Homo sapiens: one gene and its partners. The protein of the gene in region 1 purifies or fractionates together with the protein of each later gene. This does not show direct contact. Each region holds a gene or a part of one and is shown in the gene's direction. Other genes may lie near its edges.

What was found.
Region 2: the proteins of KIAA1143 (region 1) and AQR purify together in Homo sapiens (affinity purification with mass spectrometry; 2 studies listed by BioGRID and IntAct, with this or other methods). This does not show direct contact.
Region 3: the proteins of KIAA1143 (region 1) and EAPP purify together in Homo sapiens (affinity purification with mass spectrometry; 2 studies listed by BioGRID and IntAct, with this or other methods). This does not show direct contact.
Region 4: the proteins of KIAA1143 (region 1) and DHX35 purify together in Homo sapiens (affinity purification with mass spectrometry; 2 studies listed by BioGRID and IntAct, with this or other methods). This does not show direct contact.

The regions. Positions count from the first base shown.
Region 1 is NC_000003.12:44,748,228-44,751,623, reverse strand, and holds the end of KIAA1143 (uncharacterized protein KIAA1143), read left to right. Parts: 3' UTR 1-2,880; downstream 2,881-3,396.
Region 2 is NC_000015.10:34,907,240-34,910,759, reverse strand, and holds part of AQR (RNA helicase aquarius), read left to right. Parts: intron 1-446; coding exon 447-625; intron 626-3,520.
Region 3 is NC_000014.9:34,515,699-34,519,218, reverse strand, and holds the end of EAPP (E2F-associated phosphoprotein), read left to right. Parts: intron 1-2,632; coding exon 2,633-2,909; 3' UTR 2,910-3,281; downstream 3,282-3,520. UniProt on the Homo sapiens protein: May play an important role in the fine-tuning of both major E2F1 activities, the regulation of the cell-cycle and the induction of apoptosis. Promotes S-phase entry, and inhibits p14(ARP) expression.
Region 4 is NC_000020.11:38,960,996-38,965,146, forward strand, and holds the start of DHX35 (probable ATP-dependent RNA helicase DHX35), read left to right. Parts: upstream 1-1,348; 5' UTR 1,349-1,372; coding exon 1,373-1,412; intron 1,413-4,151. UniProt on the Homo sapiens protein: May be involved in pre-mRNA splicing.

The DNA.
Region 1 (3,396 bases):
CCAGCTGTTGTCATATTTTAGAGGCCCAGTCAGCTAGTTTTCAGGTGGTGTCCCTTACTAATCCTGATTGGTTGACATCAAAACAGCATTCTTCTTCTAGGAAAATACATAAGCCACCTGTTTCAGCAGTTAGGAGATCTAGTCCCCTTCGATTTTGCAAAGCGACCACTGCCAAGGAGCCTATCCGAATTTGTAAGGTGACAATACTTTGAGCAATGTTATCCAGGCTTTCCATAAAATCCTTGGACAAGCGTTGGTAATAGGATAGGGAAGTTGCAATCCCGCTAACTCCCATTCCTACCTCTGCTGTTATTCCTAGCCGTTGTGTCTGGTGGTTGCAGTTAAAGGTATAATGAGGGATTGGTTGTTGGGAGCTATATTAATTTAGGGACATACAATATTTCTGTCTCCAGTCTACCACTTCCACCAAAGACAAATCACAGCAGAACCGACCTAACTTCAAAATAAACTGCAGTCCCATATACTGGGCCTGATTACCCACACAAAGTGCAACAAGAATCATTGTCCATATAGACTCTCCTAGATTGGCTTTGCTAGAACATTTCACAAGGCCATTTCAGTCAAAGTCCTGAGAAAGTAACCGGTTTCAATTGTGCCCTATTACAAAAGAAAACGTGGTTATTAACTTTATACAGACAAATGCCATGAATTAAGAATATTCATAAATAGTTTACAAATTCTGGAGAAATTAGAATACTCAATACACTTAAAGTGTATTTCAAGGCTATAAATAGCTCAAAATAAAAAGATTATTCAGACTCTGAAAAAACAAAAAGAAGTAGCAATATTTCAAACAACAAAAGCCATACAAATTATTTCAGTCTTCCATTAGTTCATTTCAGTCCATGTAATCAACTCCTGCTCTACTTCATATTCATCTTTATGAACACATCAGCCTTTCAATTAGTGCCTTGGAAGTTTTCTGTCTAATCCAATGGCACACTCTCCAAAGTTACCAGAAACCTGCATTCAAGAGTTCTTTTCATGAACTCCAAAGAAGTAAGCCTTGGACTGTAGCTGATTATAAGTCACTTTTTTTTTTTGAGAAGGATCAGAGCAAAACATCAATTATGGATGACAAAAGTCTTAAGACAGCCATAAAGACACAGTTGACAAATGTGGCTATTTCTGTGGCTTACAACAATTTAACATAATCATTACAACATATATTAAGACATATCAGAATTTTAGAACTCTCATACAATCCTGGAACACATATTAACAACAAATCTCTATCAGTATAACCCAAAGGAAGCTAAACACCACCTCACACTTGACAATGTTTCCTGTATAATTCAAACATTACAAATAAGCCTAATATAAGCCTAATATGTCACTCTTGAACTTCAGGAAGCCTAATATCCAAAAAGTTAGTTTAAGGTCAAAAGTTTTTGAATTAACTTTTTTCCATTAGTATGGTCATATCTTTCTTACTAATTTGTAAGTTATGTAATTTATCAATTTTTTTTTGTTGTTCTGTTTCCCAACCTCTATGTCAGATAAAGAATCACCCAGGCCAGACACAATGGCTCATGCTTGTAATCCCAACACTTTGGGAAGCCAAGGTGGGAGAATTGCTTGAAGCCAGGAATCTGAGCCCAGCCTGGGCGACAAAGCAATACCCCTATCTCTACAAAAAATAAAAAATAGCCAGGTGTAGCGACACACACCTGTAGTCCCAGCTGCTCAGGAGGCTAAGCAGGAGGATGGCTTGGGCCCAGGAGTTCAACGCTGCAGTGAGCTATGATTGCACCACTGCACTCCAGCCTGGGCAACAGAGTAAGAACTGTCTCAAAAAAAATAAAAAATAGAAATAAATTTTAAAAAAAGAATTACCCATATTCTCTTTGTTTTTGTTTATTCACATTAACCTTTATTCTATCTGGAATTTATTAGAGTATACTTTTTTCTCAAATAATCAATTGTCCTAGAACCATGTGTTTCTCATTTATTTGAAAGGCCATCTAGTGAGAGATTTCTCCAAATGTTGGGGTAGGGAAGGGAGGGGAAGCACTTTAAAGTCTGAGCCTTTAGAGGTGATTCCTCAAGACCCTGCTTAATCCTAACAATTTTCCTCATTAGTAAAAGTCAGCCCAAACTGGGGGCTTGTTAAGATCCTTACCAGCCACATCCATCTGAAATTATGAATTTCAAAGTATCTTACAAATTTGGTGCCACATTATCTTTTTTAAGTTTGTTTTGTTTTGTTTTTTTGAGACAGAGTCTCGCTCTGTCACCCAGGCTGGAGTGCAGTGGCGCGATCTCAGCTCACTGCAAGCTCCGCCTCCTGGGTTCACACCATTCTCTTGCCTCAGCCTCCCAAGTATCTGGGACTACAGTCGCCCGCCACCACGCCCGGCTAATTTTTTTGTATTTTTAATAGAGACGGGGTTTCACTTTGTTAGCCAGGATGGTCTCAATCTCCTGACCTCATGATCCACCTGCCTCGGCCTCCCAAAGTGCTGGGATTACAGGCAGGAGCCACCGCGCCTGGGCCTTTTTTTAAGTTTTAAGTACCTATAAAGAACACTGAAAGGTGATGTGTGTGGATGAGCTAGGAAGACCTGAAATAGGCTCTCTCTAAATTAATCAAATTAATCCTGAAGCCATTCTGCAATACTGTCTTTAATGTATACTCACTTGTTATAGAAGCCAGGGTTTTTTCCCCTAATTTGTATCATTGCTATATGTGTTATTGTACCAAACTACACTGTTTTAATTGCTGTAAATTTTAATATGTCTTAGTATCTGGGTGTGGGAATCTTGAAAGCATGGAGTTTGTGTTATTCACCACTGTATTCTCAAATATCAGAAGAGTATCTGGCCTACTAAGTGCACAATAAACATAGTTAAAATGAATGAGAGTGTTGTCTGTAATTTTCTTTTTATAGATGAGTAGGTCTCATGTGTAGACCCTGTACCATCAGCATCAGAACCCCTTAGAAACCTAAAAATTAAAATCTTGGTCCTTGCCTGCTGAATCAGAAACTGTATGTAAGGCCCAGTAATCACTGTAACATGCCAGCCAGGTGGTTCTGATATTCACTCACGTTTGAGAACCACTGATAAAGACTATAGTAGTCCTCCCTTATCCATGGGGAATACATTCCAAGACCTCCAGTGGATGCCTGAAACCACAGGTAATACTAAACTTTATATGTAGTATGTTTTTTCCTATATGTACATACCTATGGTAAAGTTTATAAATTAGGCACAGTAGAGATTAACAATAATAATACAGTAGAACAATTATAACAATATACTATAATAAAAGTTATGTGAATGGTTTCGCTTGCTAACAACAATAAAATAGAACAATTATAACAATATACTATAATAAAAGTTATGTGAATGTGGTTTTGCTCACTCTCTCAA
Region 2 (3,520 bases), on another chromosome or scaffold:
TGTATACATAGTTTAAAACATCACATTGTATTCCTTAACTATATACAATTTTTATTTGTCAAGTATACGTCAATAAAGCTGAAATAAAACTAAGTGTGCTGGATTATTTATTTCTTTGATAAAATGGCTCAGCCCCAGAATGCTCTTATGTACATAGGGTTAGCTTTTTTCTTAGGTTGGAGAGGAGATATTCCTCTACTTCTCTTTCTTTTCTGGACCATGTTTGCCTGTTTCATGCTATCATATCCCTGTTTCATGCTATCTTATATACTTTGCATACTTTGAGAGTTAAAGGTTTTCTTTTTTTTAAGTTAAGAAATAAGAGTTACTAATATTAGGACTTAAATACTAGCTGAACAGTATTCCTACTTACTAGTTTTAACTTGTCTAAAAGTTGGGGATAAATTATTTTTTGTTTGAGTAATCATCCATTTCTTTGGTTTCAGGCAATCTGAATATGGCGGTGTAGTGTTTGGTGGTTGGGCGCGAATGGCCCAGCCCATTGTGGCTTTCACTGTCGTTGAAGTGGCCAAACCCAACATAGGTGAAAACTGGCCAACCCGAGTTCGTGCAGATGTTACCATAAATCTCAATGTCAGAGATCACATCAAAGATGAATGGGAAGGTAAGTTTGTATTTCAAAAAGTGACATTACCTTTTGCCTTGTTATGAACTTTCACTTAGAGCATTAACAAAGTACTTTTACTAAATGTTATCCTTTAAAGCTTTTATTAAGCGTTATCCTTGAAATTTGATTTAAAGAATAGCAACTTTTTTTCTAATTATTAGTTTTAAAAATACCAGGGATCATACAAGAATATTTAGGTATCTTAATACTTTAATAAAAAGTATAAAATTGCATACATATCAACGTTTTGAAAACTGAAGTTTGCAAAGCCTAGAGGAGAGCATTTTAAGTCTTAAATTTAGCAAAATAATATTTATGGATTTCTGGCATCAATATAAAAGAATAAAAATATTAGTGTTCACCAAAGAGCAGGGAGAAAGCCCACATATAACATACAAACATGCAGAGCAGTAAGGAAAATTGGTATTTTTCAAAAGATAAAAGTAGCCAAGGTGAAAAAAATAGAAATACATACACTTTGTGGAAAATAAAAATTAGGCAAGCTTAAAAAGAATATGTGGGGGTGGGCAGGGCTATAGTGAAACAATTCAGAAATAAATAATAGTTTATTTGCGCCTAAGGCAGAAAGGATAAAGAGTCAGTGAAGTCAAATGTAGTCAAGGATATATAATAATTGCAAAGAAATTAAAGGAGTTATTCCTCCTATTTTTGCTAGGCAAGATTTTAAGGATTAGAGTTCCATGTCAAAATTAATTTGTTTTGGAGGCAGATATGTTCAAAATTACTAAGTCCAATAGAGTTAAAACATCAATAAGACCTCTGCCAGAAGTGACATATGAACTGATTTCTAATAGGCAGTTTTATATTTTTCTCCCAGCTGTCCTGTGAGAGGTCTTACTTAAAGCCCTGTTTTGAGAAACAGTAGTCAGTAGGTTTTACCTCCTTTTACCTTCTTGGCATGCCAGAAGGAAAGGATGTCCCTTAATGGATCTGTTTTCAGAAATTATTACTACCAGTGTAGCTGTTTATAATCATGGGAACTATATCAAAGAATTCTGAAGGAATCCAGCAACAAAGCTAGCCAAATGTTTAACAAATGCCTACTGTAGCGGGTATAGTTTATGACAGATTGTTTTATAACCCTTGTATCCTTCAAAAGAGTTCCATCCTGGTATATTACTCATCTAGACTAATGTGCACCTTTATTATTGCTGAGCCTCGAGAAAGCCATTAAGTTGCTGGAGAAGGTCTCATATTTATTATTCCTTGAAGCTTAAGGAGATATTAAACACTGTGGGTAATAAACTGAGATAACTTACTGGGTACCCCCAGAAGTAGTAGATAGTTGGAATTTTGTTTATTTTAAAGGACTCTATAGGAATTTATAGATGAGAGGTCTGCATTTTGGTGTTAAGGAAAACAAAAGGATGTTTAAAAACAGGCCACTTCCCCCATTACTGACTGCTTTCAGAAGGACATGAGACAGTCTTTTTTTCTTTTAAACATCAGCCTCTGGTAGAATGAGAACTGGACAGGGTACATTTTGATGGGCAAGATAGGGCACAATAGGGTATTGTGGGATGAGTGATAATCTGGGGTATGATGGAGAGAAAAGTGTTTTATGGGAGGCCTGGGCCAAAAACCAGCCCCTATATTGATCACAGATAGGGTAGCCAAATAGAAAATGGAGTAAAAAGGAGAGATTCTGTAAACAATAATACATTTTTTTTTTTTTTAGACGGAGTCTCACTCTGTCGCCCAGTCTGGAGGGCAGTGGCACAATCTCGGCTCACTGCAACCTCCACCTCCTGGGTTCAAACAATTCTCTGCCTCAGCCTCCCGAGTAGCTGGGATTACAGGCACCCGCCACCACGCCCAGCTAATTTTTTGTATTTTTAGTAGAGACGGGGTTTCACCATCTTGGCCAGGCTGGTCTTGTGATCCACCTGCCTCAGCTTCCTAAAGTGCTGGGATTACAGGCGTGAGCCACCGTGCCCAGCTGAATATTGTTTTATAAAAGTAAATTTTAAAGATTATTAAACTAAATACCATAAAACATTCCTTTTGTCCCTTTGAAAAGGTGTGAACCTCAAGCCCTTATCTTCTTCAATATTCTCATTTAAAGTTAAGGAAACAGAATTCATGAAATGGAAATGCCAGATTTGCTCCAGAAAGCACAGCTAGGATAGGGTGGATACAAATGGTTGCAAGGAGAGAGACATATAGGATTTTAAAAAATGTGGATCTAAGATGTCCCAGAGTAAAGTGGTTTGTTTTAGGAAGGAACAAGAGGTCATCCCTCAGTGATGCCAAAAAGTAACTCCTATCTTGGGAGAGGATAAATGACTTCTCAGGACCACTTCTTTGGCTGTAAGACTTAGAAGTTTTAATGAGCTGTGCAGATCAGACATCACACAGGTAGTACAACTCAGAGAGTAGGATGATTCCCATTCATTCTCATTACTTCTCTTGCTGCTTTGCATAGAATTTATTGGGAAATAATTAAGTCAGTATTATGAATAGAGTTATTATTTCTACCTTTACCCATACTCTAACCAGTCCCCCAATTAAAACAAACCAAAATATTTTCAGTACTATTAGCCATATGCCCACATTGTTGATTTGATTTCATTGTGTTTGTTGTTAACAAGGTTGTGAGCAAGCAGACTGTTTACATTTACATTTATGTCATGTAATGGCTAACAAAAACATCAGAAATGGAATGAAGATTAAGTGGTGTAGCATTACATGCTGTGAGGTCTAATTTTATAATCCTTGTCTTCCAGTTTCTCTACTTTTAATAGAGCTGGGAAGCCATTTGAGTTCTTTATTGGGTCTAGTGACCAAGAAGCTGTGGACTCTGGCACAAGTCTCCTTTTTCTTGACATTCACTTATAAAAATGTTCACGATTTGCCAACTGAAACTGTATA
Region 3 (3,520 bases), on another chromosome or scaffold:
AAGCAGGCACATCTTACATGGCCAGAGCAAGAGGAAGAGAGAGAGGGGAGGTGCCACATACTTTTAAACAATCAAATCTTGTGAGTACTCACTATCACAAGAGCAGCACGAGGGGGAAGTCTGCCCCCAAGATCTAGTCACCTCCCACCAGGTCCCACCTCCAACATTGGAGATTACAATTTGACATGAGATTGGGGCAGGGACACAGACCCAAGCCACATCAGTAGCAAATCCTTACTTATCAGTACTAACACAATGTAAATGGACTCACTTCTCCAATTTAAAGGCAGACAGTGGCTGAATGGATCAACAAACAAGACTCAACTATATGCTGCCTAGAAGAAACTTGCTTCACTTGTAAGGACACATGGACTGAACATGAATGGGAAAAGATATTTCATGCAGCTGGAAACCAGTATAGGAATAGCTGTCCTTAAAACAGACTACAATCAAGGACTGTAAAAAGGAAACAAAGAAGTTTACTATATAAAGGGGTCAATTCAGCAAGAGGAATTTATATAACAGTATAAATATCTATGCAGCCAACATTGGAACTCCCAGGTATATAAACATTAATAGATCCAAAGGGGCTGGGCGCAGTGGCTCACGCCTGTAATCCCAACACTTCAGGAGGCCGAGGTTGGTGGATCACAACGTCAGGAGATTGAGACCAGCCTGGCCAACATGGTGAAACCCCATCTCCACAAAAATACCAAAATTAGCTGGGCATGATGGCGGGTGCCTGTAATCTAGCTACTCAGGAGGCTGAGGTGGGAGAATCACTTGAAGCTGGGAGGTGAAGGTTGCAGTGAGCCAAGATCGTGCTATTGCACTGCAGCCTGGGTGACAGAGTGAGACTCCATCTCAAAAAAAAAAAAAAAAAAAAAAAAAAATCTAAAGGGAGAGATACAATACAGTATTAGTATTGCAATACAATAATAGTAGGGGACTTCAACACTCCACTCTCAGTAATGGACAGATCATCCAGATAGAAAACCATAAAGAAACATCAGAGTTAAACTACACAGTAGACCAAAGAAGCCTAACTGACATTTACAGAACATTTCACCCAAATAATCTAATGATACACCTCAAGGAACTAGAAAAGCAAGGACAGACCAAATCCAACATTAATAGAAGGAAAGAGGCTGGGCATGGTGGCTCACACCTGTAATCCCAGCACTTTGGGAGGCTAAAGCAGGCAGATCACGAGGTCAGGAGTTTGAGACCAGCCTGACCAACCTGGTGAAACCCTGTCTCTACTAAAAATACAAAAATGAGCCAAGTGTGGTGGCGTACACCTTTAATCCCAGCTACTCAGGAGGCTGAGGCAGGAGAATCGCTTGAACCCGGGAGGCAGAGGTTGCAGTGAGCCGAGATCACACCATTGCACTCCAGCCTGGGTGACAGAGCGAGACTCCATCTCAAAAAAAAAATTAATTTATTAAATAAAATAAAAGGAAAGAAATAATAAAGATCAAGGCAGGAATGAATGAAATTGAGACCCCAAAAAACCCAAACAAACAAGCCAGAAGATTAATGAAATTAAAAGTTGATAATTTTAAAAGATACAATTGACAAACCTCTTAGAAAAAAAGAGAGAAGGCCCAAATAAATTAGAAATAGAAAAGAAGGCATAACAACTGAGACCACAGAAATACAAGGAATCAGGCTAGGCACGGTGGCTCATGCCTGTAATCCCAGCACTTTAGGAGGCCGAGGTGGACAGATTACCTGAGGTCAGGAGTTCAAGATGAAACTGACCAACATAGTGAAACCCTGTCTCTACTAAAAAATACAAAATTAGCCAGGTGTGGTGGTGCATTCCTGTAATCCCAGCTACTTGGGAGGCTGAGGCAGGAGAATCACTTGAACCCGGGGGGCAGAGGTTGTGGTGAGCTGAGATCACGCCATTGCACTCCAGCCTGGACAACAAGAGTGAAACCCCATCTCAAAAAAAAAAAAAAAAAGAAATAGAATCGTCTGGGTGCGGTGGCTCACGCCTGAAATCCCAGCACTTTGGGAGGCCGAGGCGGGCAGATCACAAGGTCAGAAGATCGAGACCATCCTGGCTAACACAATGAAACCCCATCTCTACTAAAAATACAAAAAAATTAGCCAGGCATGGTGGCGGGCGCCTGTAGTCCCAGCTACTCGGGAGGCTGAGGCAGGAGAATGGCGTGAACCCAGGAGACGGAGCTTGCAGTGAGCCGAGATCGCGCCACTGCACTCCAGCCTGGGCGACAGAGCGAGACTCCATCTCAAAAAAAAAAAAAAAGTTACTTTCAAAAAGCAGAAGGAAAGAGGATACATTTCTTCCTTACACTGTTACATACTAAAATGTTTCTTCTGCCTGGTGCAGTGGCTTGTGCCTGTAATCCCAGCTACCAGGGAGGCTGAGGCAGGAGGATCACTTGAGGCTAAGAGTTCAAGGCTGCAGTGAGCTGTGTTCACAAGTTTTAATTATTCTTAAAACAACTGTTTAAAATTTCTTTAAACTTGCTGTTTTGTTCCTGTGTCTTGTCTTTGGTTGGTATTTCAGTAAGTTTTTGGTATTCTCAAATTTTATCTAAATGGATAAACTATTAACATAGAACATAAACCCCAATTCTCCATTTCATTTTTCTCTTAGGCATGAATCATACAAAACTCAATATAGAGCAATGTTTGTAATGAATTGTTCTATTAACAAAGAGGAGGTTCTAAGATATAAAGCCTCAGAGAACAGGAAGAAAAGGCGGGTCCATAAGAAGATGAGGTCTAACCGGGAAGATGCTGCCGAGAAGGCAGAGACAGATGTGGAAGAAATCTATCACCCAGTCATGTGCACTGAATGTTCCACTGAAGTGGCAGTCTACGACAAGGATGAAGTCTTTCATTTTTTCAATGTTTTAGCAAGCCATTCCTAAACAGCCCAACTGGCATTTAATTACCCAATACTGTATATAAGGCAAATATGGACAGTTACTTTCCTCTTGCCTGTTCATATCCTTCAGTGACATTGAGGAAGCAGTGTTTCTCTTTTTAAAGGAGAATAGTTGTCAACCTTCATTCATCTCTTACATCTCTCACCCTCTCCTTTTTTTTTTCTTTGATTTTCCCCCTTATTGATGGGACTGATATTCATTCTGTTTTTGATGAACATTTGGAAACTGTCGGGCTTTTTATTAAAGCTCTGTAGAATTAAAATGTTCTGGAATTATAAGCAATCTTTGTTTCTGAGTGTTATTTTTATTTTGGATATAGCTTTGATGTAATTAAACTGGAAACTCTTTCCTGAATTGTCTGTATTGTTTTTGCTAAGATGTATCTTTATTCACCCCCACCCCACATGATGAATGACAGTATTTAGTAACTGTTACAATTGCGTGGAATAGGCTGGTAGCTTTGGCTCCTGCCTGTAATCCCAGCACTTTGGGAGGTCAAGGCGGGTGGATCAGGAGTTCAGGAGTTTAGGAGTTTGAGACCAGCCTGACCAACATGGTGAAACGCTGTCTGTCTCTACTAAAAATAGAAAAAT
Region 4 (4,151 bases), on another chromosome or scaffold:
TTAATTACTATAAAAATAAATCAAAGAAGATTCTTACATGAACCTATGCAGGTAAATTCAGATTTTTTTCCCCCTGGTGGATTTGCTCTGAGTTGAGGTAATGAGAGCTAACATTGATTCAGTGCCTGCTATGTTTTGCACTGTTAGGTACTTTACATGTTATCTCATGTAATACCTCTTTAAACCTCATTTTACAACTAAAATTAAATGACAGCTAGGAGCTAGGAAATGGCAAAGTTACGATTCCAAGTCTGGACTGGTTGTCCACAAAAGCCCCTGCTCTTGCCATAATGATGCCACTTCTTTCAAAGAATTCAGAATTTTCTTCACAGCTTTAAAAATGCATAGATTCTGAAGCCTCTCACTTCCTTCCAATTAGTTGCCTACCTAGAAAGTTATTTCCTCCACTTGAGCTCATCACCCCTTCTTAGCGCTCCTTTGGATTACTGTAATTTCTTTTTCTTTGACCTCACCTTTCGTCTGATGGATTAGTGTAATCTTTCCCAAATTTGTTAATCTGAAGAATTCAGGAGCTTCTCAAAATGCAGGTTCCCAAGCCATGCTCCAGGACATCGATTCAGAATTGGATCAAGGCCTAGAATCTGTGTTTTTAACAAGCATTTGACTCAAGGGTATCAAATTGGAGGAAGCACTGAGTTGGTGGACTACCTTAATTGATCTACCCATTTTCAGTCTCTTCTGCCAACCCATTCGCTCCACCCCACCCCCAGTCCGTTTTTCCGTTTTGCCCTCAAGGTCCCTGAAGACTTCCATATCATTTCGCATTGTTTTATTTGGGGCACTGTGCCGCACTACCTGGGCCCACAGCAGGCGCGCAATATTTACTGACAAATACAACCCACGAGGTAGTTCCTATTATTACCCTTCAATTTGAAATTGAGAATAAAACAGAAGTCGACAAGTTGAGGTAGCTTGTGACATCAGTATTTCGTATTTAATCCAGAAAGCACTGCTTCAACGCCCAGTGCGTGCAAGGTTCCACTCTCGGGCCAGCGGTCCTCTCCCAAAGCCCGTTCTTCCTAAGTGTGCGGCCGCCATCCAGGACACGCCACGCTCGTAAAAGGTCACCTGAAGCATCTACCCTCCACGCTCAAGAGGTAGGCGGAGGAGCGCGCCCTTTTCTCCAAAATGGCTGAGCAGGGTCACGTGGGCTCGGGGGCGGGGCCGGTGCGCTCGCCGGAGCCTGGAAGTGGGTCACGTGGCTCAGACGGGGGCGGTAGCTGTGGGGGCGTGGCCGTCACACGGCGCGATCCGTCTGGGCAGCGGCTCTTCGGGGGCCACGCCCTCCGGGCCCTGGGGGCCTAGCGCGCGACGGTGGGGTGGAGCTAGCCTCGTGACCTTTTACCCCAACATGGCTGCGCCCGTGGGACCGGTGAAGTTCTGGCGACCCGGTAAGGCCCTTGGTGGAACGCTGGGCAGATGCGGCGGCCTGACTTCGGTCTTGGCGCCGCGGCCGGCGCCCTGGGGCCAGCAGACCTGCTCGCAGGCCTGACCTCGGCGAGCTGGGCGCTGCCGCCTCTGTGCGGGGGGAGCTCTGGCTCAGGCTCCCCAGTGGTCCCGAGGGATTTGGGGGTGCTCCCCTAGCGTGAGCAGAAACTCTTTGTGACCTTGTTAAAGTGGTCCAGCCTCCTCAGGCCTCGTCTTCCTCGTTACTGATGCTTGTCCTGCCCACCCCGCGAGATGGGGAATCCTAAAGCTCCCTCTCGTGTCTCGTTAGCGCCCTGGGGTTGCGCTGTGGCCCGACAGACAATGCTGCTCGCTGCTGGAGGCTTGCAAGCCCAAGTTATGGAGTCAGACTGTCCGGGTTCGAATTTTCGTCTCTGCCTTGTAGTAGGGTGACCTTGGGCGAGTCACTTAATGCCTCTGAGCCATGACTTCTTTACCTGTAAAGTGGGCAGAACAATAGCTTCTATGCTGTGGGCTTAAATGACAAGCAGAACGCGTTGTCAGACTTAGAATAAATGCTCAAAAAAAGGGAAAGTGTGTTATTTTCTTTTAGGATAATTGTTGTCCACTCCGAATGTCTACTAGAAAAGGGAACAGTCCTTCATATTGGCTGCCAGCCACTTCCTCTCTTACAGACTAACACGAATCACAATCACAAAATGCTTTACTTGTTTTGTCTTGATATTTACTCATTAATCAGGTTTTTACTGAATGTGCATATGCCAGACCGTACTAGATGCATTACTTCCTCTCTGCAAACAGTTTCTTGTAAAAAACAAAAGTTTTTAAATTACAGCTACCAGCTTGATTTTTTTCTACCACCTGCACCCCTGCAGGTCTGGATGTGCAAAGTATATTGCAGCAAAAATGAAATGACACCAAGAATGTAATATAAGCAAAGCTTTTAATTTTTCAGTGGTTCTCTGAAATTCTGACCATGCATATAAGTGATGTGAGAGATAAACCCAAGCAAGAGATATGTTTAATGCTTTTTAAAAATTTGTAGTCTGTCACTTGACAGTTTTATGGTTCAGCATTTCAAGTCATCAGCCAATTATCCATCCTGAGTTTTATTTGCATCCAAAACTAGGAACTTACTAAGTAATGAATACTTTTAATTTATTCACGCTTTTAGTAACAGGTGAAAGTGTTAGGTATAATAAAGAGCTGAATTAATTGTTTGAAATCAGACCAGGGTACTATTTTGGTTAAAGAACGTGGAATTACTCTTAAGAGTTCTATTTCATTATTTAGTTCATCCATTGAGGGTACACTTATTGAAAACCTAATCCTGTGTTCAGGAGACAAATACAGATGCTCAGGGCTCTGCTCTCAAGTTACTGTCTCTCTCTTAATTGAATATAAAGTTAGATGTCCTCTAGAAGAGATTTTACAATGAGACAGAGTAAGGTGGTGGTAAAGAAGATGAGCTCTAGAGTCAGACTGCAGTGCCCATCATGTCTACCACTTACTAAGTTGATGACTTGATAGTCACTTAAATTCTCAAAGTCTCAGTTACTCCATCTGTAAATTGGGTATAATACCTACCCTACCCAAAGTAGTGTTGTGAGGTTTAAATGAGAATAACACACAACAGGATCTTGGCACTAGATAGGTTACTATTATAATTATATGGAAGTATGGAAGAGGGAGGGAAAGTTGAATGTATGGATAAGAAATACTTCATTAAGGTGGTATTTTTGGAGTGAACATTAAAGGATGAATAAGGTTTTGTTTCATAGAGAAATGGAACTCGAAGCAAAGGGTGCAGCATGAACAAAGGCAGAATGGGATTTGTGCCTTTAGAATGTCCAGAAAGCCAAAATAACAGAGCAGTGTGATAGTGTTAAGTGCTAGGGTATATTTTGGGGTATGACAGGAGATGAAGCTAGAAAAGTAGGTAAGGGCCTCATTGTGAAAGGTCTTCATGACAAGTTAAAAAGTTTAGACTTCACTGTTTTTTTGTTTTCTTTCTTTTTTTTTTTTGAGATGGAGTCTGGCTCAGCCGCCCAGGCTGGAGTGCAGTGGCGCAATCTCGGCTCACTGGAACTTCCACCTCCCAGGTTCAAGCGATTCTCCTGCCTCAGCCTCCTGAGTAGCTGGGACTACAGGTGTGTGCCACCACACCTAGCTAATTTTTGTATTTTTAGTAGAGATGGAGTTTCAGCATGGTGGCCAGGATGATCTCAATCTTTTGATCCCGTGATCTGCCCACCTCGGCCTCCCAAAGTGTTGGGATTACAGGCGTGAGCCACTGGGCCTGGCCTGACTTCAGTGTTTTTAAGCAGGAACAAATCAGGTTTACTTTAGAAAGATAACACTGGCAGTGGAGTAGAGAGTGGATGGAGGAGGAAATTAGAGAAGGTACTAGTGAAATCCAGGAGGGATGTTAAAAACCTTAATTCTGACCTGGGAGCTTAGAGGAGGTGCCTGTTGGAGAGACATTTTAGAGGAAGATGTGGGAGAAGATGAAGTCAGTAATAACTCAGATTTCTGGGCTGGGTGACTGTCTAGGTTAGTGATTCTCTAATTTTGCTTTATAGTTGAATCACTTGGGAAGCTCTGAAAAGTCCTGATGTGCACTTGCACCTCACACCAATAAATTAGAACTTTGGAGGCCTAGGAGCCAGGCATCAGTGTTTTTTAAAGTCTCTAAGGAATTCCAGCATGCATCAAAATTTGGG